Linked DNA regions of Homo sapiens: regions 1, 2 and 3 are each linked to region 4. Evidence: fine-mapped expression QTL. A gene starts in region 4. Each other region holds a variant in brackets. All regions are shown on one strand. Distances are from middle to middle.

Region 1 (5,908 bases), 55 kb before region 4:
TTTTTTTTTTTTTTTTTTTTTTTAGACGCAGCCTCATCCTGTCACCTGGGCTGGAGTGCAATGGCGTGATCTCGGCTCACTGCAACCTTCATCTCCCGTGTTCAAACGATTCTCCTGCCTCAGCCTCCCAAGTAGCTGGAATTACAAGCACCTGCCACCATGCCCAGCTAATTTTTGTATTTTTAGGAGAGATGGGGTTTCACCATGTTGGCCAGGCTGGTCTCAAACTCCTGACCTGGTGATCTGCCCACCTTGGCCTCCCAAAGTTCTGGGATTACAGGCGTGAGCCACTGTGCCCGGCCGAGACTGTTAAGATTTTATTGCCCTAGTACCAGCAGTTATGATGTTCTATAGAACTTATAGCTGAGCCCATGCCAGGGATTCCCCAGCTCACTGAAGCTGGAAGGAAGCCAACTGGACTGCCGAGTTCACTTTAGGAAGAGAGAGGGAGTTAACTTAAAGTAGGAGGTGGGTTGGAGGAAGGATAGAAGCCCAGAAAGTAAGTAAGGCATTGTAAAGTCACACCTTAGGCTCTGCAGTCAGACAGAGCTGGCTGTGGGTGACTTTCCGATATTTACTAGCTTAGGATATTAAGCAAGTGCTTTAATCACGCCAAGACTCAGTTTTCCCATCTGTGAACTGGAGGTCATAATAGTACTTGCCTTGTTGGATTGTTGTGAGGATTCGATGAGATAAAGTCTGAAAAGAATTTAGCACAGTGTCTGGTTCACAGTAAAAGTTAAATCAATATTATTTTCTATTATCATAATTATAAATAATGGCATGAGCAAAGGAGAGGCTGCGAGTAGAGTTCGCACTTTCCCTCCCTAAGTGTCAGTGCGTCTGGAGAGAAGACAAACATTCTTACGTATAAACAGTCCCTTCCGTGTGACTCTCTCATCCAAGCCTGCTGCATACCTTGGGTGTGAGGGCAAAGAGTAGTAAAAAGGAAGAAAAATGGAAGAAGAAAGAAGAGACCACAAAAGCAGAAGAGATTCACCGGGGGTGAGGGGCACCAGGGCAGCAGGGTGGGGGCAGGAATGATTGGAAAAAGACATGCAAAAGACAACCACGTGAAAGAAATGAATATGGATATGGAAATTGTCAAAAATGGAAAGAAGTTTTGCAGCTGGATGTGGACAGAGCAGGAAATGTGGAGGAGAGGTGTAGGAGTCTAAAAATGTACAGGGTTTAGTTTGCCGGCCAACACCTCCTCTGGGGAGGTAACAACTCCTGAAAGCCATGAACTTTTAAAAAGGAACCTAAACAGCACAGCAAACCTTCCTGAAGAACATATAACCTCACTGTGTACTTTTTGTCAGCCTCAATTCCTTCCCCACAACTCTCACTGAGCCATTGATCAGTGACTCACCCTTATCTCCCACGATCTCACACTCCGCTGTAACCCTAAAGAAAACTCTGCTCCTTAAGGTAATCCTTGACACTGTGCTGTGCAGGCCTCTGCTGCAAAGGGTAGGGGCAAAATTACACCATGCCTGGAGCTTAGTAAGTGCTCCAGGCATGGGGTAATTCAACAAACAATGTTGGTTGAATGAACAGAGGGATGAATGGTGTGGTATACTTGAGGCAAGCCTACATGCAAGTCAACAAGACTGCTCATTGGATCACTTGAGCCCAGGAGTTTGAAATCAGCCTGGGCAATATAGTAAGACCTTGTCTCTACAAAAAAAAAAAAAAAAAAAAAAAAAAATTAGCCGGGTGTGGTGGCACATGCCTGTAGTCCCAGCTACTTGGGAGGCAGAGGTGGGAGGATCCCTTGAGCCCAGTAGTTCGAGGCTGCAGTAAGCTATGATAGTGCCACTGCCCTCCAGCCTGGGAGACAGTGAGACTGTCTCAAAAAAGAAAGACTGCTCATGGGGACAGGATTTCTTTCTGGGGGAAAGAAATGTCCTGGAATTAGATAGTGGTGATGGTTGTACAATTTTCTGAATGTATTAAAACCCACTAAACTGTACAATTTAAAACGGTAAAACAGTATGTGAATTGTATCCCAATAACTTTAAAAAGCACAAACTATAGCCAGGGAGAAGCAAACAGTCATGACTAGTACCTCTCTTCCAATTGCACTCTTTTTTTTTTGCTTTGTTTTCCCCCCGTAAGTTATTGGAGTACAGGTGGTATCTGTTTAAGTGAGTAAGTTCTTTAGTGGCAATTTGTGAGATTTTGGTGCACCCATCACCCAAGTGCACTCTTGACACCGGGTTCTCTTCTCATCCTTTTGCTTCTTCTCAGGACATAGTGATTATCTTTAAAAGCCTTTCTCATGTGGTTTTTGTTTGTTTGTTTTTGGATTTTCAAGTGTTCTGGAAATCTCAGTGGGACCAACGATGGTTAGATCTCGTAGTAATAAAGTGACTATGTAAGAGAAGCTCAGTTCTTTCTTGAACATTTCTCTAGGACCTGTGCTAACTTTTCAAGCTTGAACAGTCCTCAAGATAAAGATTCACTTTCATAGCGAGCGTCTTTCACATGGCCCCAGCCACCTGAGGCTCGGCATCAAAGAAATTTTTTAGGAAATCTATTGCCTAACTATCATGTCTCTTAGCCTTATAGTGCCCTTATGGAACACCTTATCTTCCCTGATAGTCAAGAGCATTTAAATGAACAGAAACGGTTTCCCAGATGGGATGGAGAGGAAGAACACAGTGTAGCAATAGATTCTCCCGGGATTTTTTTGTTTTTGTTTTTGGTTTTGGCTTATTGTTGTTGTTGTGTGTGTGTGTTTGAGTCAGTGTCTTGTTCTGTCACCCAGGTTGGAGTGCAGTGACATGATTTTAGCCCTCTGTAACCTTGAACTCCTGGGCTCAAGTGATCCTTCCACCTCAGCCTCCTGAGTAGCGGTATCATTGCGGCCAGCTCTCCTTTTCCTTTAACTTTCC[T/G]GTTTAGTCACAACCTGCCTTCTTATACATACCTATAAACACATGGACATCAATATTAAAAAATGTTGTTTTCTATGGACTTAAGTTTGGTGAGATTGTGTGGTTAACAGAGCAATTCGCTAAGGATTTTGTGTGGAGCTTACTTCACTTGCCTGCTTAACACTGGCAAAAGAAACTCCTGAATCTTTTAACATCGTTTAATACGTCAGTAACAGACCGTTTAGACAAATAGGATTTTAAATTTGGGGGCTGGAATCTGCTATATTCCTGTACAATAAAAAGGAAATGAGTCCATACATGTCTGCAAACTAAGGTTTGGGGCAAATTCTGAGTCTCCAAGAAAAATTGGGAAAAGCAGGCTATTCATATTCATATTCCTTCTTCAGCATTCTATACATGCAGAATAAAACTGTGAAAAAGTGGAATGCTACCTATTCAAACTTAATTTTGGGCCTAAAAAGAAGTTTAAATATTCACTCATTCAGGGACTTTATTTGAACTGAGAAACAGAAAGTTCATTTATTGCCTCAGGAGCTTCTGAAAAATCCCATCCAGTCATTCATTCTGTGTAACTTGTTACAACCCACTGAGAATCTCAGTTACTGAACTACAAAGTGAGTTTTTATCTCTAAGGCCTACTATTCCTATATTTTTGCCATGATGTCATCATCAGCCAACCAGGGCCTCAAAAGCTCATAAGTTAGCAGTGCTATCAACTGAATTGCTTGGCAGCATCATGAGGTGGGGAATTTGTTTAAAAGCCCCTTTAGGCTTTGAAAATTATTGAAGAAAAGCTTTTAGAACCTTTTTTTTTTTTTTTTTTTTTTTTGCCTTTGAGGATCCCCTACCTGTTCAAGGACACCAGGTTGGGAAACACTGACCATGTAATCTGTGAGGCCCTTCCCAGCTTTAAGAGTCTCTGAGTCTGGAAAAAGGAGGCAAATGAGTAAATCATGAGTTACCTGGATATGCCCCTTCTTCCAGAAGGCCCTGCCGATTCTCCCTGAAAAGTAGAGTTGCTCCCCGGCGGGATTGCCCCCTCAGAACCAGCTATGACTGTCCTCATTGGGGAAAACAATGCAAAACCTTCAAAACTAAAACAAATAGTCATTATTTGGATTTAAATCCTAGTTGTTTAATTTCCCCGAATGTCTTTAGTCTGGAAATTTAAGGAAAACAACTTTTCCTTAGTTACGTCCAATGACACTTTGTAAATATAGGAGATGAACAGAAACATCCTTTTTTACTGTGCCCCAGATAATTAATGATAAAACTCTTGAGCTCAGAGAGACCCTAGAGAGTCCTTACCCAGTGGGAAACAGCCATTCTGCTGAAATGTAAGAGCAAAGCAAAGGAAAGGAGACAAAGAAGACTTCTAGAAACCTGGAGATTCTAGGGCTTCTTTCCCAATCCCTGTTCCCTTGTAAAGGGGCCGAGGCCTAGACTCCATACGCATCCTCTCTCTCTTATACCTCTTAATGACATGTATTTCTAGATACTGTGGGTTTCTAGACACTGTGGGCGGCAACCTTTTGTTTTTTAAATCTCCCTTGGTGCAGAGAATCCAGAATAGTGTTCTTTGCTGGGAAAAAAATGACATCAATGTCAGTAGCCTTTCTCATGGTGGCCACATGGTCACAGGGCTGCCTCTGCAGGCAGAAAGCTTGCAATGTGACTAACTTTGTCCACTTTTATTAAAATGTTTACTTTGCCATTGTCTGACTTCTAAAGATCAAGATCTTTTTTTTTCCTCAAGCCTAGGGTTCATCACTCATTTTGGAAAGGGGAGAGTTCCTCGCTATATTCGTTAGAGGTCTAATGGAGTCCCTAAGAAGATTTTATACTTCTCTTTGGAATCAAAAAAGAGGACATTATTGAAAGCCATAATTTGTATACTTTTCACTGCACCCCATCAGTCCTCATTCTTCCTTCCCAGAGCACCTTATGCAGAGTAGTGCCCTTTTCTTGATGTTCCTTCAAGAAAGTGCTTCCTGTTTTCAGGAAGAATGTGTTCTTCTCTTCAGCAATGGATGAGCTTCTTCCAGGGAAGTTGACCCATTTCCTGATGGCCCCCAGCAGAGTCTTTGCTTGGATGTTATTTGCTTCTTGGATTGATTTTGCATTGCTCCTCCAGAGAAATTGGAAAACCATCCAAAAAACTTTTAGAAATGTAGTATTTCTAGAAATACTACAAAAATAGAAGTACTAGAAAAAAAAAACACCGGTATTTATTCATCATTATCATTGCCATCATCCTGTCTCTCATTGTGATGTTTAAAACCTTCTGTAAACAAATAATCAGAGGCTGAGCATGGTGGCTCATGCCTGTAATCCCAGGACTTTGGGAGGCCAAGGCAGAAGGATCACTTGAGCTCAGGAGTATGAGACCAGCGTTGGAAACATACTGAGACCTTGTCTCTACGAATAATTAAAAAAAAAAAAAACTTACCAGGCATGGTGACATGCACCTGTGGTCCCAGCTACTTGGGAGACTGAGGTGGAAGGATCACTTTAGCCTGGGCAATCAAGGCTGCAGTGAACAATGATCATGCCACCACACTCCAGCCTGGAAGACAGAGCAAGACCCCATCTCAAATACATACATATATACATACAAATGATCAAGCAGATTTCCGGTGTCAGAAAAGCAAAAGACTGCTATTGTTTTCCATATTTATTGACTCTTGAACATGAAGCAAACTTAAGTTTACCTGTATTTTAAGGAAGTAAACCATGTTGAGAACATTAAGGCTTTCTCTTTAACTCCTATGCTGGGCAGCACCTTCAAATACAAAGATGAAGAGTGGGAACAACTTGCAAACCCTCCTTCATGCTGTGGCTTATGCCTGGGTGATCTTGGCTAGTGCTCACCACAGACCCTCGGAGTGGGTGTTATTAACATTATATATGCCTTCTCACTTTTTCAACCCACAGTGGCTCCTAGTTAACCCTTGATTATCTTTGTTTCATGCTAAGCTCCTCCATTTGTTTGCTTAGTCGCTCTTATT
Region 2 (5,908 bases), 41 kb before region 4:
TTGAGTGCTTACTCTGATGTAGACTCCAATTACAGGCATTGGAGAGGGACACATCAGTGAACAAAACAAAACCTCTATCCTAATGAGGCCTATATTTTAGTGAGGGCAGACAGACAAATAAGTATATATAATGTCAGGAAGTGATGAATGCTATAAAATGTTGTCTCTGAAGAAGAAAATTGTCATAAGCCATGGTCTCTTCCTATGCTGGAGACAGGCAATCCACAGACTTAAGGGTTTGGGGACATATGTGTGAAACTGGAGGATATGGCAGGAAAATAAAAATTATAGGCAAAGCAATTATTAGCAAACAAGACAGTTTTCCGACTCTTGTTAGAAAGTACTACAGATTCCCTTCACTTCCCATATGAAAAATCTATGATTTTAGTCAGCAGGTCCTTCACTTTGCTGTAAAAATGTAAAAGATGCATCTAGATACAGTGTTATTGTTCTGTATGTAGATACAATGTTACTGTTCTACAGCAAGGGCAAAAAAATTCTTGCAGGCTTCCCACTGAGAAGGGCCTGTGCTGGAACAAGTAAAGTAGAAAGCCCTGGGGAAGTCTAGACTTGCCCCAACCCTCTGAGAGACTTGGGCCAGGCCCTTCACTGCTCTGCCCTATACCTCTTGAAGCCTAATTAAGTAAAATGAGGAGTATAGAAAGGAAGGTCTCTGTGGTCCCATCCAACCTGAGCCATCTTTTTCTACCCTAGCTTACATTTCTGCCTGGGAGACTTACAAGCGCACAACAGGATTAATCCATCAGCTCTGCTGGGCTGGGAGAGGGAGGGAGCCAGGCGGAGGAAGTATCAATGATACCGCACTCCAGTGAGCACTGAAGAGGCTCCATTCATGGACCAACAAAACCTGGAAGAAGCCTCAGACTTAATCAGCCAAGGAGGCTCCAGCAGCAGGAACAAAAGAAATCAAAGCTTCACTGGGTAATGCAGGCACAGCTTCTGTGTTCCTCCTGAGACCTGAACCCACTGGGTCCCCAGCAGACAAGAAGTGGTGGGCGTGGGGGCGTGGGCGCGTGGGCGCGTGAGCGCGCACTCGCGCACACCCACACCCACACACACACACAGACACACACACACATACTGAGGGCTTACTGGTTTCCAGAAGAAAGGAGAGAACAAAGATGTGCAGACAAGGCACCTGCAGAATGAGACTATGGCTGATATCATTAAACAAGAGCTTCATTTAAACTTAGACCATACTCTAGGAATGCTTACACAGTAGTTTAATTTTTTTCAGTTAAGATTCATGTTACACTTAATAAGTGAGGGATGCTTTAATGAGATTCAAAATGAAACTCTTGCATGCACTTCTGCATAAAACCTTTCAGGGTCCTAGAGTTACTTGTTTCTTAACATATAGCAGTTGCAATACTTTGTATCATGCCCTTCCACAGAACATCTAGCTAGGCATATTTCTTTTTGTTCTACATCTAGCTAGGCATGCTTCTTTTTGTTCTATGTTCAGACAGTCTTCTAGTGAAGTAGGTTGAGATTATGCATCATGCCTAAGTGGGATGCTTAATCTCATTTAATAAGTGGGAAAACTGAGGTTGCGTTTCTTATGGCTGCTTATTACGCCTATGTGTGCCACCATAATCACCTGGGCCAACTTCGTCAATAGGGTGATCATTGTCCCTGAACTGATGGTGGTGGGAATGAGCATATCGTCATCACCCTTCCTTAGGAAGTGCCAGAAGGAAGACAGGCGATAAGATGCCACATAAAACTCAGTAACCTTACTGGAAAGAGTGCCTTCTCTGTGCTAGTCTAAATGCCACACTCTGTGTCTTTTTCAGGTGCTGAAAGTATCTGGAAGATTCCATTATTATCAGGATGACTCACAAAATTTAATAATTACTTGTTTTTGCTTTGTTTTGTGTGCCCATGTTTTACATGATGTGACCTTCTGCTGCCCTGTACTATCATAAATTGCATCTTTCTGAAGGCAGTTCTGAGTAAGTTTGTGTCCATGAGTATGTGCTAGCATTTCAGCTCATGGGCATTGCCTTAAAGAAGTAACTGGGGCTGTCAGCAATCTGTTGTGAGGTCTTCAACCAGCTCATTTATTAAATAGCTTTAGGACAAATATTCTTGGCTGAAAAATCTGGTATAAAAATGAAAAGGAGAGTCCTGCAAACAAAGAATACAGTTCACTGTGTTCAGTTATTTTTCCCTAAAAAAAATGCGTAAGAGATGTAGAGTTAAAAAATATTTTTGAGTTGTTATGACCAGTTGATGACAGACGTGGTTTTTACTTTTAAAATATGGTATCTGTGACTACAACTGATTGTGGGCAAAACCACAGAGATGCTTCTTTTGCTTGAATTCAGCTATTTTCCTTTTCTGTGTTCTTCTCCCAACTTCTGATTTGTTCTTACCCATGAATTAGGTGGCTCTTGAGTTGCTCTTGATCTTACCCCTATTCTTTGCTGTTGTCCCTAAGCAATGCTCTTTATCTGGGGCCAAACCCACTTCTTCTCCCCACTCAATACTTTCCAGCCAAGGGTCCTGACTTTCCGGTCCAGGTGCAAGTTCCTGACGCTGGATAATTCCAGGCATCATTTCCACAACATAGAGCTTTTGGGACAGAAAAGCCTTTACACAGCACTCATCTCAGATTCCCCATGGAGGGTCTGCCTATGCATTGAGTCTGGCCCCTTCAGACCCCTTTTTCTTGTCATCACAGAGGGAGCCCGAGCTCTTGGCCAGGCTTGTGAGCAGAGC[A/G]AAGACAGTTGCTATCGCTATAGAACCATTTAAAGCTTGTGTGTGTGTGTGTGTGTGTGTGTGTGTGTGTGTGTGTGTGTGTGTGTGTGGAAAGACCTTCTGCTAGGCCTTATTACATCCTACTGGTTCTCCTCTCACTTCTGTGGTGTGAATGTTAATTATCTAGGAGCAGACCACTCCATCATTACAGATCTCACCTTCCCACTCTAGTCTGTTTCCCAGTGAAAACATAGCTTCTGCAGCCCTCAGCCCCTAGAGTTGACCCCTCCATCTTTACAGGCACTTCCTGCTTTTGGTGGCAACTTTCATCTCAAGGAATTAGAGGTGTTTTGTGCAGCCAGCACACAGTGGAGACAGGGCACATTCGCAGAGCTGAACAGACTGCCAAGAAAGACAGTGCCCTTCTGCTGTAAAATTCCAGTAGAAGTCCTGTGGCTGGGATCGTGACACACACGGGAGTCTAAGGCTCACAACGGGCTAGCATAGTCTACCTTGTAAGCCTTACAAATATTGAAATATGGCTTTGCAGGGGGTAGTTTATATAAGATGAGGTAAGTTAGCCATGGGACTTTCCCCATAGTCAAAAAGTTTGAGAGCATTGAAGAAAAGTATAGCCTTGGTTGGAAGCCAAGGAATGGCCATCATCTTTGAAGAGTATCTTCTTTTGCACCTGAAAATGGGCAGCTCAGCCTATGACACAGAAGGATGCAGAGAAGGCCCACTGATGGCCTTGGCCTCAGAGACTCATCACTGTCCTTTCAGACTCCAGATCCTGACTCTCTTGACATCATTAGAGTAGCATCCTCCATGCCCCAGGTGCTGACACAGCCTCCAAGCCACACACACACACACACACACACACACACACACACACACCAGTTTGTTAATTTACCCAGAAAAATACAACTAATAAGAGTACTGGTTATTCACTCTGGCCAAATCAGCACACTGGCTCAGAATGCAGGCAGTGAGTTAAGCTTCAGAAGTGTCTCTCCATTGAGATGCTTTAGGCTCTCTCAGCAAGTCAAGGACAAGAAGACTCTGTCCAGAGCTGTTATAGTGCCTTAGTGGGTCTACCAACATTTGCCTCTGCAACACCCCACCTTTTTCTTTATTTTATTTTATTTATTTTTTTTTTTTTGAGACGGAGTGTCACCCTGTCACCCAGGCTGGAGTGCAGTGGCGCGATCTCGGCTCACTGCAAGTTCCGCCTCCCGGGTTCACACCATTCTCCTGCCTCAGCCTCCCCAGCAGCTGGGACTACAGGTGCGAGCCACCACGCCCGGCTAACCTTTTTTTTTTTGTATTTTTAGTAGAGACGGGGTTTCACCGTGTTAGCCAGGATGGTCTCGATCTCCTGACCTCTTGATCCGCCTGCCTTGGCCTCCCAAAGTGCTGGGATTACAGGCGTGAGCCACCGCACCAGGCCCCTTTTTTCTTTATTCTTATAACTGATCATTTCTTTGTACCCACCCCACACCCCAGACATTTTGTTCTAAAGCATTCTTCAAGCAGAATGCGTACAATTGGTTGGGTTCTAAGTACTGCCCTTGCTGGTTCCCTGAGATTTCTCTTAAGTTCACCTTGATTGGTTTCTTAGGCATCCTTAAGTTCTTGGCTCACACATTTATAAATGATTTTTTTACTTTACTTCCAAAGATGACTAATTACATCAATTGTGTGTGGATTTTAGTGGTTTAACTCTTATTTAAACTGTATTTACAAGTCTTAGAACTTATCTTACTGTGGCCTTTATGCCCTTCAATGTCTTCTTAACTAATCTGTTGATAGAAGCAAACCTTCCAATGTCCCAGCCCCTGAATGGCAGAGACAGACGCTGAACTATGCATTCCAGCTATTATCCTTCCTCCGAACTGAACATTAGCCTTCACTCCTTCTATGAAGCCAGCTTTAAACATTCTTCCCACACTGCACATGGGGAGCTGTGGGGATAGTTAGCTGAACTTTCCCAACACCAACTTGTTGAAAGCAGAGGAATCAAATAAATGATGAAAGCAGCAGCAAATGAGCTTTTGTGCAAACTGAAAAGTGAGCAACCCACGCCCTCAGTTAGGGCTGGCAGCAGAAGTTTAATGGCCCCCCTTTCAGGGTCACTTAGTTAGTTGTAGTTTACAGGATGGTCCCAACTCCTGAGGTATCACTTGCTCCTCAAACATCTACTCGTAGCCCCCACCATGCTAGGCATGAAGTGTAGGGTAGGATGACTAAGAGATGAATAAGACATCATGCTTGCACTCCAGGAAGTCACAGTCTATGACGGTAGGACACTGGCTTGCTGGCAAGTGATTCCTGAAAGAAATGATGGAATAATGACTGACAAGAAGAAGGGAATTACCTGAAGAGGCGTTCAACCTTGCAGGACTTCATGCAAGCACAAGGCTGTTTCTTTGCTCTAAGAGCACTCATTCCTCCTTTTCCTTCTCCCTGTCTCTTTTCTCCTGGCCTGTGGGGTCTGGCGGCTTGTCTATGTGACGGCTGCAGCTGCTGCTCTGCAGAATGAGTCACCTCCACCGATCCCCCTACATGAGCAGCTCCGCACTCCATGAAGGGATCATGGATCTTCAGATTAAGCATAAATTTGAGCTAAAGTATTTATTTATTTATTTTTAAATCAGAGCGAAAACTCTTATTTGAATATGAATGTGCTTCCCCACTTCACTTTGAAGCGTAAGGATTGTGTTAATTTCTGATGGAGAAAAGGGCACAGGGAGGCCCCCTTTAAAAAACGGCATGTGCCCAGTATCCTGAGACCCCAGGGCCAGCAACCTTGAACCAATAAGTGACAAAAGGCAAAGGAATTAAGCTAGCCACATTTAAAAAGCTAACTAGGAAAGTTGGATTCATTTTGGCTAAATTAAATCCCAAAACCATGTAAAATGTTCCAAGAACGTGTATTCCTAAAGATTTTATTGTTTATAAAATGTTAGTCCAACGTTGATATTATGAAATCAGCAATATTTAATAAATGTCCGTCACCTTATTCAGCACTGGAAATACTGAGCAAGACACAGTCACAGCCCTTGTGGTTCCTTGATGTTTCATCACAGTAAAAGACACAGCTTCCAAAAGGTTCTGCCAGAAGTGAAAGTTAGTCTCTGTTTCTGTCTCTGTCTCTCCCAACCTCTACCTTCCCTTTTGTCTT
Region 3 (5,908 bases), 32 kb before region 4:
CTCTTTTGGTCATTCTTGCTGGCTCTACAGTAGCCCTCTTGTCTCTAGGATCTAAATTTCAGGCCTTCCTTCTCTGCAGCCCTTAGACACTTCTCTGACTAACCATAGACTATGTGGAAAATGGTAGCTGGATTGCCTTTGGGTGGAGTCCTTGCCCTGTGGCATAGGAAACAAAGGAAAGGAGAGAGATGCCCTTTGAGATTAATGAAAATGCTCTCAGCCAAATAAGATCTAAAAATAGCCTCCCTGTGATATGAACGCGTGGCCCCTAAGGGTCCTAAAGAGAGAGCTAGGGGAGGTTCAGCTGGCCACAGAGATGCTAAAGGTCAGGAGCAGACTTTTAGGGTTTGCTGTTTTATAGGTTTAAAGACCAGGTCTGTGTTTTGATAATTGAACTTGCTAATAGCTGGCCACTTGAGTTGCTTCTTCCAGCTCTTTGTTTGTTTTAAATAAAGAGATTCAGCCAGTAATAATGGGAAGAGCTGCAAATGACTTCCCCAGTTGGGAGTGCCTGCTTGTTTTTCCTTCTGCCTGGGCATGCTGATGTGCAGGCCACACTCACAGACTCACACGTCTGAGGAGATAGCCCAAGGGAGCCCTCGGTTTGTATATTTATATAGGATGTGTGTATAAGAATGTGTTCAAGTATCAAAATACATAGGTAACCATGGGTGAAAAGAGGAATTCTGTTGCAAGAATTTAAATATACTGTTTCTCGTACATTTATGTCTTCATTCATTCCTTTAACAGACACTTATTGAGCACCTGCTGTGAGAAGCACTGTGCTATTTGCTGGGAGACATGCTGAGATTTCTAAAAAAGTGGGCCTTTATTTCTCCCCCTTCAGAAGCTTTCCATCCAGTGGGGGCACTATCTGATCATTCATTAAAGCACACATGAGTCACCCACAATGAAAGATATTGTGGGATAAATGCTTTGGGAATGGTACCGAAGACAGGTGCTATAAGAACCCAGAGGAGTATGTGTTCACTTCGGGCTTAAAAGACATCAAAGAAGATCAGTGGAGGAGGGAGTGGTGTGCTAGAAATCATACAGCAAATATCCAGTGGCAAGAAAAGGCACAGCATATTGGGAGTTTCAAGAAGACTGGTTTACCTGGAGAGGATTCTCATGGTAAGGTGAATTGAAATAAAATTGGAAGCTAAGAGTCAGATTGTATAGGGCCTTGAATGCCAAGTTCAGTTGACTTACACACATATAGATGAGGAAGTGGGAGGGAGGTAGCTCCCAAGGTCTCAGAAATCCAGGTGATAGGACTGAAATTATAACATAAAATGGCTCTTTACTTTCAGAATTGTTTCTAGGCCAGTAAGTCATCAATACACCCTAAGAAAATAAATTCATATGGAATTTGCCAAAGTTGTAGAAAGGATACAATCTCTAAATAAAGGGTAGCCCTTTAAGTTGAATCCATTAAGAAAAGTTAAATTATGCTTATTTTTTTCACCATGACCTAGTAAAAATTCTGTCACAACCATTGATACAGCTAAATCCCCTTTATTCCAACTCCAAGCTCCTCAAGGAACCTTGTGAATATCAGATGGAGCTATAGGAGAAGACATAAGAGGCCCCCTTAGTGCATTAGCTGCTACCCTGGTCTTGCACTTTGGTCTCTTGAGAGCCTTGCTAGCATGAATAAGCGTCCTCAAATGGGATCAGCTCTTGGGACACTGGCTAAGTTACATTTCTTTTTTCTTTTTTTTTTTTTTAAGAGACAGGGAGTCACTATGTTGCCCAGGCTGGTCTCAAACTCCTGGGCTCTAGCAATATTCCCATCTCATCCTCCCAAAATTCTGGGATTACAGACATGAGCCACCATGCCTGGCTCAACCAAGTCACATTTTTGAATCTTCAAGTTAAAGACTAAAAACCCTGGACTTGCCTTTGTGAATCCACCAAATGGCTCTTTCCAGACTCTGATTGGGGCAGCTTACCAGCTTTCCCTCTGGGCCTCCTTAAAAAGCACCCAATCATTCAAAATACACACAGTTCTGGGTGATGGAAAAGTTTAATTAATAGACTTATGTGGCTTGCATATGTAAATCACCAAGAAGTAAATATAATTAAAAACTTTACAATAAAAAACTTTAAATATTCATACATTTTTTGATGATTCAAGAACTACATTACCAAAAGACATAACCAGAATATATCAGAACTCTCAAAACGCAACAGAAAACAAATAAACCAATGTAAAAAAATGGGTAATTAAACAGGCACTTAACATAAAAGGATAGCTAGATGATAGTAAGTACACAAAAAGTTTTCAACAATTATTCATTATTAGGGAAATGTCCGTTAAAACTACAATGTGTTACCATTATATATAAAATTAAAAATACTGACAATACCAAGTGCTGACAAGGATGCGGAGCAACTGGAAATCTCATGCATTGCACATGTGAATGCAAAGTAGTAAAGCGACTCTGGACAATGGCTTGGCAATTCCTTAAAACGTTAAACATACACAATGACCCAATAATCCCATCCCTCAGGTTTTTACTGTAGAGAAATGAAAGCTTATGCTCACACAAAAACCTGTACATGCATGTTTATAGCAGCTCTAGTCAGAATCACCAAAAACTTGAAACCAACCACCCAACTATTCTTAAATAAGTAAATGGGTAACAAAACCACATCAGAATCTTACAGTATTTTGGGGGAACATAATGACCAATTAGCATCATGAAGTGGTACCATAGAAGGAAAATGGTCATATTTTTTCCTTCTGCTTATTAAAATTCCAGATAAAGTGAGGGTTCCAGATAAAGTAGGCTCCTTATGTTTATAAGAAAATGTGTAAACATTAGCCACACTGTGAGTTATGAGTGTTTGTGTTGCAGCTAAATGCACAAGTATTGAGCATGGAATGCAGGTTTTGAAAGAGCAGAAGAATAAAGCATATGAGTGGGAGAAGGAAGAGAAAGGCTGCATGCAGAATAAATAAAAGCATCTCTGTTCATCAGTGTTGACTTCAACCTCAGAACCAAAAT[G/A]AAGCAACTGTATGCATGAGTATATATATGTGTGTGGTCCATGTTCATTTGGAGGGTCAAAAGCCTTTGATTAAAATTTTTTAAATTAAGACTCAGAATCATTCAGTGTTTTTAAAAACTGATCTCCTTAAGGAGAAGAATCCTATGTTTTGATGGACATGAGAATAGACAAACTTAAAGAATTGGGAGAGCAGGAGGCCCTGCCAGAGGAAGGCCTGTCTAAATCCACATACCAGTGCAAGCTGTCTTCGGCTGTCCTACGTACTAAGGGACATAGCTCAGCACAGCCAGTCCCTGTGATGCATCAGCCACTGCATCCGTAAACCAGTGACCACTTCTGAAGCAGCAGAAGTTATTTTGCTGCAAATCTATCTCCAAGATCCAAAATGTGTTTAATCGGGGTGAGCCATTAACTGAATTAAATGAGACATATGTTTACCAGCAGGTGGCAACAGAGGTAATGGTGTCTCCCAAAACGTTAAACTTGCATTATTTTATACGCCAGAAATGGGAATCTTCAAAACTTGATTGGGTCCCAACTTAACTTCACTCTATCTTACATTTGCATTCTGAGATGAAATTATTCAAGCCAAGATATTGTAACCAGAAACATAAATTTTTCTTTTATTAAGCTGATATTGTGCTTCATTTTCTAAGGGTGGCTCCTCCAGGAGTTTGATATTTTTAATTGAAAAATTGGAAAAATAAAACATTATTTATAGCCTCATGAGTTAGACTTATTTGTGGTCAAGGGAGGCTTTTAAAAGGTGAAATAAACACTATTTTCAAATACAGCTGCCTGACATTTAATAGTGGAACGCATATTCTCTTGTGAACAAAGACGAAGCAATTCGACCACTTTTGAATGTCAAAGACATACTAGGTTCCTAACTGACTCTCTTAAACCTTTGTTAATTCTTTTCACATATGAGAAAACCCTTAGGTTTCAATGGAAAAAATAAACATTTTATTCTCACATGATTTCAAAGACTATTGTAACAGGATAGTTTGCTCTAAAGCTCGTGTCCCAGATGGAAGGCATTGTTGCAAGAACATTTTACCCGACTGTCCTGATCCTAGAACTTGTAGAATGCCTGTACTTCTTTCTGTTTCACCAAACTTCCCTGATTGTCTGGCTCCTCTCTTTCGGCATAGGTTCCTGGGCTCCCGTCTAACTCTTAGTCTCATTTCCCATGGTCCCTCTCTTTTCCTGTGGTTTATCACTCCTTTCATTTCCCACAATCTCTCTCTCATAACTGGACTTGGAATACATAATTTAGAAAAATATATACGTAGAAAATAAAAATGTTATTTAGAAAAATAAAACTATTTCTTGCTATATTTTATGATCTTAAATTTAAAGGCTTGTTCAGTTCCATATTTCTAAAAACTAGAAATAATTTACTTGCCAATTATTTAACTTAATTTTTAAATAAGTATGCACATTCATGTGATTCAAAATTTGAAATGTGCAAAAGGGTAGTAAAAAATGTCCCTTCTACTCTTTCTTCTAGCCAGTAGCAACCAATGCTTCAAGTTTCTGATGAATATTTCCAGAGAGATGCATATACCAGCAATTACATATATGTGCAGGGGTGTGTGTATATATATATACATATATATGTGTATATATGTATATATACACACATGCACATATATAAGTGCATATGTGCATATATATGTGTGTGTGTGTGTGTGTGTGTGTGTGTGGATATTCTTTATCTTTCCTGATTCTTACACAAAGGACAAATGATAGCATACGTTACACAAAAGCACCTTGCTTTTTTTTTTTACTTAGCTATTATACATAGCTTGGCAATTATTCCCTATCAATCCAGAGAGAGCTTTCTCTTCCCTTTTTCATAGCCACAGAGTATTGCACTGTACAGATAGTCCATAATTTATTTCAATCTGACCACTACACATACCACTTTGTTTGTTATTAGTTAAATAATTTCTGCTTTTAGTTTCTACTTTCTTTAGGTTTATTATTATCATTCAGTTCTTTTTATTAATTCTTTGAGTCAGATGTTACTTCTTTCATTATCAGTCTTTTTATTATTCTACATATGGAAGACTATGAATTTTCCTCTGAGCACTGCTTTAAATTGCACTCCTTAGGTTCTAGTATATAGTTATTTCTAAATTAGTTTTTGGCACAGAATTGGATTAATCATCATCCTTAATTTATGTTACACTCTCATCATTGGTAAATGCATAGCCATCTTTTGTTTAGTTCTTCCATTTTTTAACATAATTTTTAAAATATGGGCCCATCACCCAATGCGTCTTGACAATAAACTCCATCTACCTATATTGCCCCTCCCATTCCCTCCCTCTGCTTCTGTCCATACTACTCCTCCAACCACCAGAGATAAAGATCATGCTGAATTCTTTTTCATTTCCTTGCTTTCTTTTTCATATAGCTTCATAGCTTCTATCTTCTATCTTTCCTTAAAACATATTTTTATTTTAAATTTAAACATTTTCTTATTTTCTGAATATTAGGTTTGATTTTGATTTTCTTTATGATCCAAGAGTTGCTTTAAAAAGAGTTTTGGGGTTTTTTTCCCAGATATTAGAATATCTTGTTGTTTTATTATTTTGTTTTATTATTAAGATCGGGCTATATTACATCATGAACAGAAAATGCCTTCTGCACTATTTTTACATTTTGGAATTTCTTGGTGTTTTTCTTTGTGTTAAAATGTGATCACTTGGGATATGCCATAGGATGCTCTGTATCCACCTGTCTGTCTCTCCAATTTTGGGGCCAGTGATTGCCCTGTGGCCTCACTTCTCTGACAGATCTAAGAAGAGTTGCTGATTTTGTATTTTGTTTGGCTTTTTAAATTGTATATATTTAAGGTGTACAACATGATATTTTTATATAA
Region 4 (5,908 bases):
TTACAGTCTCAACCTCAGTCTTCCCATCAGCCACTCTACAGGGAAGGGCCAGTATGTGATTCCAACAAATCCCCTTTGAATTAGAGCACATGTATGTAGTAAACATTCATACATTGATCTCCTGAACCACTGACCGACGCCCCGCTTTTTTCAGGCACCTGCACATGGCTTAGAATCATTTACACACAGAAACACAGGATTGGAAAAGATTTCAGAAATGATCTTACCCAACTGCCAGCTTAATGCACAGCTCTCCACTGCATCCCTGACTGGGGCTCTTCTGTCCTCTGCTTCATCACTTCCCAGGCTGGAGACAACAGGGCAGTGAGACCCGTTACTGGTGGAGAATGGCCCCCATCTTGCAGAGAGGAAATATCTTACTCCCACCCACAGATCCTAGCCCCAGATCTATGGCATTTAAGATAAGCTTTAAGAACTCATCTCACAGGAAATAAAAGAAGAATTGGAGGGTTTTTTTTGTTTTTTGTTTTTTGGGTTTTTTTGGTCTTTTTTTGTTATTTTGTTTTGAAGACCTCTTTCAGTTTATTCTAGTTTCCTTTCCATGCTGTTTGGCCCACTCAGAGACTTGCCTTATTCTCTTTCTTTGTGTCTGAAGTTTCTTTCTCCCCTAGGCAAAGCACCATAAGCTAATTTGCTCCCACTTCATCTGGCCACCTTTCTTTAGCAGGTCATCCCTACTCTGATTTCCTACCCTATAGATAGCTGACTTTCTTTGTCTTTTCCCCTACTATTTCCATCGCTTTTTTTCCTTTCTTATTTAGAACTTCTTATTCTCATTCCCCTTCAGGGTCATATTAAAACAGTTGGAGACATTACAATATTATAACGACTCTCTGAATATGAATACAAATAAAAGCAGTATTTAATTATAAATCAAGTTTAGGATAGACCACATTTTTTTCAGATATTCACAATAATGATTATTTCAATCCTTTTTAAAAAATGTTTTTATTGTGGTAAAATACACAGAGAGTGAAATTTACCGTTTTAAGCTGTAAAATTCAGGGGCATTGAGTACATTCACAATGTGACAAAACCATCACTATCTAGTTCCAGAACTTTTTCATTGCTCCAAAGGGAAACCCCGTGCACATTAAGCAATCACTCCCCATTCCTCCCTCCCCCGACCCACTGGCAACAACTGAGCTGTGTACTGTCACTATGGGGATTTGCCATTTCTGAGTACTTCATATGAATAGAATCATACAATATGTGGCATTTTGTGTTTGGCCTCTTTCACTTAGAATAATGCTCTCAAGATTCATCTCTATCATTGCCTGTATTAGTACTTCATTCCTTTTTATGGCCAAATAATATTCTACTATATGTGTATGCCACATTTTGTTTATCCATTTATCAGTTGATGGTCATCTGAGTTTTTTTCATCTTTTGGCTATTACGAATAGTGCTACCATAAACATTTGTGTACAAGTTTTTGCTTGAACATTAATGTTATTTGTTGAGGTGTCAACTTTTCCTCCAAAACCAAAGCTTGCTTATTTGTTTCTTGCTGGGAGCCTGGGTAGGTAGTGCCACTGCTTTGCTATTGTCCTAGGCAATGTTTAGCCCGTCCACTGGTAACCTCAGTCTGTTTCCCTGTTTCTTTCACTCTCTGCTTGCCTGCACAAATTTGCATGCATATATGGGTTCTCCCCTACTTAAACAATTTGGAATTCATATTGGCAAGTGGATTTCCCCCCTCTTATAGAGGAGATTAAAAAAAATAAGTACAGTGAATGTGTCCAATTCAGAAAGGCCTTGGGCCTCAGTTCTCAGCTTCCCCTAAGAAGGCCTCTTTCCAGCTCGATTCCAGGAAGGCTGGCTCCAGGAGCTCAAGCCAGCAGAGGCCCTGCCTCGGGCCTCAGCTCATAAAGCCAAGGTGTGTCTGAGTCCCTTAACTCTGTCAGGCTTAGAACTTGAGCCTTCACTCACTGGCTGCTGTCAGAGTTCAGCGTTCCCTGCCAAGCCATCGGAAAGCTGGAGGCCAGAGAGAAAAGGCGAGAGGCATCAGATTTCTGCCTGCAGATGGGAATGGGACTGACACTCCCCACATAGGATTTCTCTGTGAGCAACCACAGGCATTATCAGCGTTCAGGATCACATCACAAAACACAGCCTGATCATCTTGCCTTCTCTTTTTCCTCCTCTCAGAGATACAGATGCATTGCTCCTTTTCCCTTTGCCTCCCGGCCTTTTCCTTTGTTTGCCCCTCTCCCCTTTCCTCCACAGCCCCGGCTTTCCCAGGTCTGTTTCTCTGTTGCTTTTTCCCCAAAGGCTCTCCTGTTTTCTCCTGTCCCTTTGATTCCTCCCCCTCCTTTCATCCTGCAAATCTTTCTCTGTCGACTCCCTGTCTCCTTGCCATTCTCGGTGTGCCTTTCGGATCTGTTTCCTTTGACACTGGTCCCAGGCCTGCTGCCAAGTTTCAGACCCATTAGTGAGGTGCCTTGCTGACTGAAACACAAATCAAGACTGATCCGGGTACAATTAGCAGCAGCTCACACCTCATCTGGAAAGCATTAGCCAGCACTGAGAGTGTAGGGAGGGAGGCACAGGGAAATATTGATGCCAAACAGAATAGATCTCCTACTTTTGGAGCGTGAAAGGATCCTGACCCAGTAGACATATAACTGAAAATAAGATACAAATGGATAATGCAAAGTTGAGAGGCATGTTAACTTACCTCGGCCACTCTTCAGCATCTACGCAAGCAACACAGGCTCCTTAACACACAATTCAGGTGTATAAATATCATCCAGGAAAAGGGGTGTCTGATTCATTTAATCCAGATATTCTAACACATGTGTGATCCGGGAGTCCTCTGCTGTCTTGCAAAATTCTATCTTGGTACTGTTTCTAAAAATTTAATGTACAAAAGAATCACCTGGCATTGAGCTAAAAATGCAGATTCTGATTGACTAGGACTGGAGAGGTGCCTGAGATTCTGCCTTTATATCAAGCTGATTGGTGAAGCACACTTTAAGGGTCTAGGAAAATTTAAGACATTTAACTTTGGTCAAGTACCCTGATCTTCTTCTTTGGAGCACTCACAATTATAAGGAAGGTTGAATGATATAATTAGCTGTTTGATGCCTATCTTCCCAACTCAGAGGCAAGCTGCCCAAAGGCAAGGACCAGGCCTGTCTGGCTCTCCTTTGTATCCTCAGTACTAGCCCAGTATGTTGCATATAGTAGGTGTTCAGTAAATATTTCACAAGTGAATTTTCACAAGTGAATGAACCAGCTCAATCCCTAAGGCCCATCAAAAGTTACTCCTATTTCAGAGAGCCTTCCCAGTCCAGCCTCCCTTATCCATACCTGCCTGGTGGCATTTCATCATTTCCCCTGTGTCTTATCTTAGCCCCTCAAGCAGATCATTAGTTGCTTGAAACTGGGACTTTGTCTTCTGTGTTTCTGAACTTTTTTTAATGTCCTTTTTTCTCCCTTCCTCTCACTCCCCATCATAGTAAGGGCTTGCTCTAGCAGGCATTTAATGTTAGTTGATTGATTGAGAGACCCTAGAATGATGCCAAGTTCTATTTAGACTTCAATTATAATGCTCAAGGGGTGGCTGGATTTTGGCTTGGATAAAAGCCAAGATTTTATATGCCCCAGTGGAAAACCTTTAATACCACCTAACACATTGTGGGGTGGGAAGGCTAAGACATTATGTGTGTACAAAATCAAGCGATGTAATACCGTGAGGCTCCCAAGGCAGTTATAAATCAGGCCACTCCAGAGGGGTAACTGCGGGCTGTGGCCATTACTTCACTCCTGTTTTCTCAACTGAGAACGACGGCTCACGTTTGCCAAGCTTTACTTGCAGGGGTGGGGGCTGTTGTTCCCCAGGATTGGGCAGACCGTTTCTCTTGGAAAGACAGAAAACTGGCTCACAGAGTTCTGCCAAAGATAGGAGAACCTGGTCTTGTTTAGAACTCATCAAATGCCCTATTTTTCAAACATCAGGGCTGTGTGAAATGCAAAGTGCTTTCGTCAAGCACTACCCCCATACCCCATAATATTAAAACATGCATATTTTAAGGGACATTTAATCCATATGCTTTTTATTTACTTACCCTTAAATCATCAAAAATAATTATTATGAAAACCTGTTTGACATCTGAGAAACTTTATGAGCATAATTTGGAAATTTAAAAATCTTGCTTTCAGGAAAAAAACAGAAAGTTGTGCTTTTCCAAAAACACACGGCTTTTAAAACAAAGAGACGTGAGGGCCTTTCCAGCATTCTAATTTCACAGGGCTTGAGGGGTTCAGCACCAGCACAGCACAAGCTCATATCCCTCATCTCTCCAGTGAATCGCAGATGGAAGTCTCAGGCATGGCAGGTTCAGGCTTCTGCACTTGATTTGATTCTGTGACCCTTTAATACCTGACAGTGACAAAACTTCATCTGTCTGCAGGCTCCCAAGCATATTTTACAAATACCCCAGATGCATGTTCAATGTGTATTTCTGCAAAGTGTGTGACTGTGGCCTGATTATCTTCTTAAGCAGATAAGACATAAATTCCAGGGTGTTAGAGACAACTTTTGAAGTTCAAAAGAAGTACCTGGCAATGAAAATCTACCACAATGCAGCTCAAGTATTTCATTCTGTGAAATAGACTTGCAATGATCTGATTGATCTCAGGGTGAGGCACGAGGCAGGAAATGTGGGATGTCCCATACTGTCTGTTAAGGCCCTGTCTGAAATTGTCCCTGAAAACTGAGAGCCACCACTTTGGTCTCTGAGTTGATTCACGCGTAGGTGAAATTGTGTAATGGGTGGAGTGGGTGAGTTTCAAAGCAATCCTGATATGCACACATACACACATACATAATGTTTGTATAGAACTATCCTATATGAACACAATGAGTCCAGAGCAAGTGAGCAATAGAGAAGGTAAGAGATTCTGATGGAAGAAGAATTGCAGTGTGCCTAAGCTCAATGCGTGATTGTTGAATGGGAAGTGACTGCACGTTGCTGAGATAAGTAACAGGAAGTCTGGATCCATGACTTCCTAGTCCCAGACAATAGGCTCACCTCTTCCAAGGTATGGATATGAGGTTTGAGGTAAGAGGAGAACAAGAGGCAGCTGCAGGGCAGGGAGCAGTGGCTTAAGCAAGTGGTAGGAAGTGGCAGTGCAAGGAGGCCCACCTTCCCCAGGCCTCCCCACTGTCCTCCCTCCTCTGCTGCCTTGGAGCTCAGCCTGAGACGAGCAGAGCTCTGCCTGGACAGTGAGTCCCCAGTCATGATACTCAGCATCCGAGTTAACCATTCAGTAGAACTTCACTGAGGGCCTGTCAAGCGTGACACAGCCATTGTCTCAGAGCCACAGTGGTGGAGAACATTTCAGTCCCCAGCCTCACAGTTCGCAGTCTGGCAAAGAATGACCAGCTTCCCTCCTGTCTGCCCTAGATTCAAGAGAGTGCCAAAGGAAACAACAGGACAGAAGGAGACATGAGGAAGAGATGGGACAGACAGCACTCAACCCTGAGCAGACGTGAGGGGCAAAAGAAAAGGCAACATTAAGGACCCATTCAAGTTTCAAGTCTCAGCGTCCCAGAGGATGGTGAGGATACAGCAAAAATGGAGAGTGCAAAAGGAGAAAGGCAGTTGAATGTGAAGATAACGGGGTCTTCGGAGCCTACCTACTAAGTCTGGTGGGATAACCCTGTTAAATGGGAAGAGGGAGGCCTTTCTTGGTACATTTTAGGAGGAAAAAAATGGCTGCCTGGAAAGTTCATATACCAGCAGCAAAAAGAAAAGCAGAATGGGATGAGAGATTATGAAAGCCCTTCACGAGGAGGTTAAGTTCTGGCGGGTGTGCCCATCAGAGACCAGCAGAGACAACTGGCTCTCCGGCCTGAGTTCGCCTACATCAGAACTAG

Evidence for each region. PIP is the estimated chance that this variant, and not a neighbour inherited with it, causes the effect.
Region 1: its variant is the best candidate, but not a certain one, in a credible set for the expression of LINC02044 in spleen (GTEx, PIP 0.63).
Region 2: its variant is the best candidate, but not a certain one, in a credible set for the expression of LINC02044 in uterus (GTEx, PIP 0.84).
Region 3: its variant is the best candidate, but not a certain one, in a credible set for the expression of LINC02044 in pituitary (GTEx, PIP 0.64).

What each region holds. Positions count from the first base shown.
Region 1 is chr3:113,110,077-113,115,984 of GRCh38, forward strand. The region is part of intron 1 of NEPRO-AS1 (NEPRO antisense RNA 1); the gene reads left to right. Among named protein-coding and RNA genes, the nearest start is that of LOLI1, 8.6 kb to the left of the region's middle. The variant T/G (reference allele first, on the strand shown) is at 2,901.
Region 2 is chr3:113,123,583-113,129,490 of GRCh38, forward strand. The region is part of intron 1 of NEPRO-AS1 (NEPRO antisense RNA 1); the gene reads left to right. It overlaps LOC124906268 (a long non-coding RNA gene), which reads left to right. Exons shown (of 3, transcript XR_007096005.1): 2 at 715-942; 3 at 1,818-3,884. Among named protein-coding and RNA genes, the nearest start is that of LOLI1, 22 kb to the left of the region's middle. RefSeq lists an enhancer at 488-989. The variant A/G (reference allele first, on the strand shown) is at 2,746.
Region 3 is chr3:113,132,814-113,138,721 of GRCh38, forward strand. All of the region lies in intron 1 of NEPRO-AS1 (NEPRO antisense RNA 1), which reads left to right. Among named protein-coding and RNA genes, the nearest start is that of LOLI1, 31 kb to the left of the region's middle. The variant G/A (reference allele first, on the strand shown) is at 3,015.
Region 4 is chr3:113,164,900-113,170,807 of GRCh38, forward strand. LINC02044 (long intergenic non-protein coding RNA 2044) reads right to left here and starts at 2,832. Exons shown (of 4, transcript NR_110823.1): 1 at 2,702-2,832; 2 at 228-307. All of the region lies in intron 2 of NEPRO-AS1 (NEPRO antisense RNA 1), which reads left to right.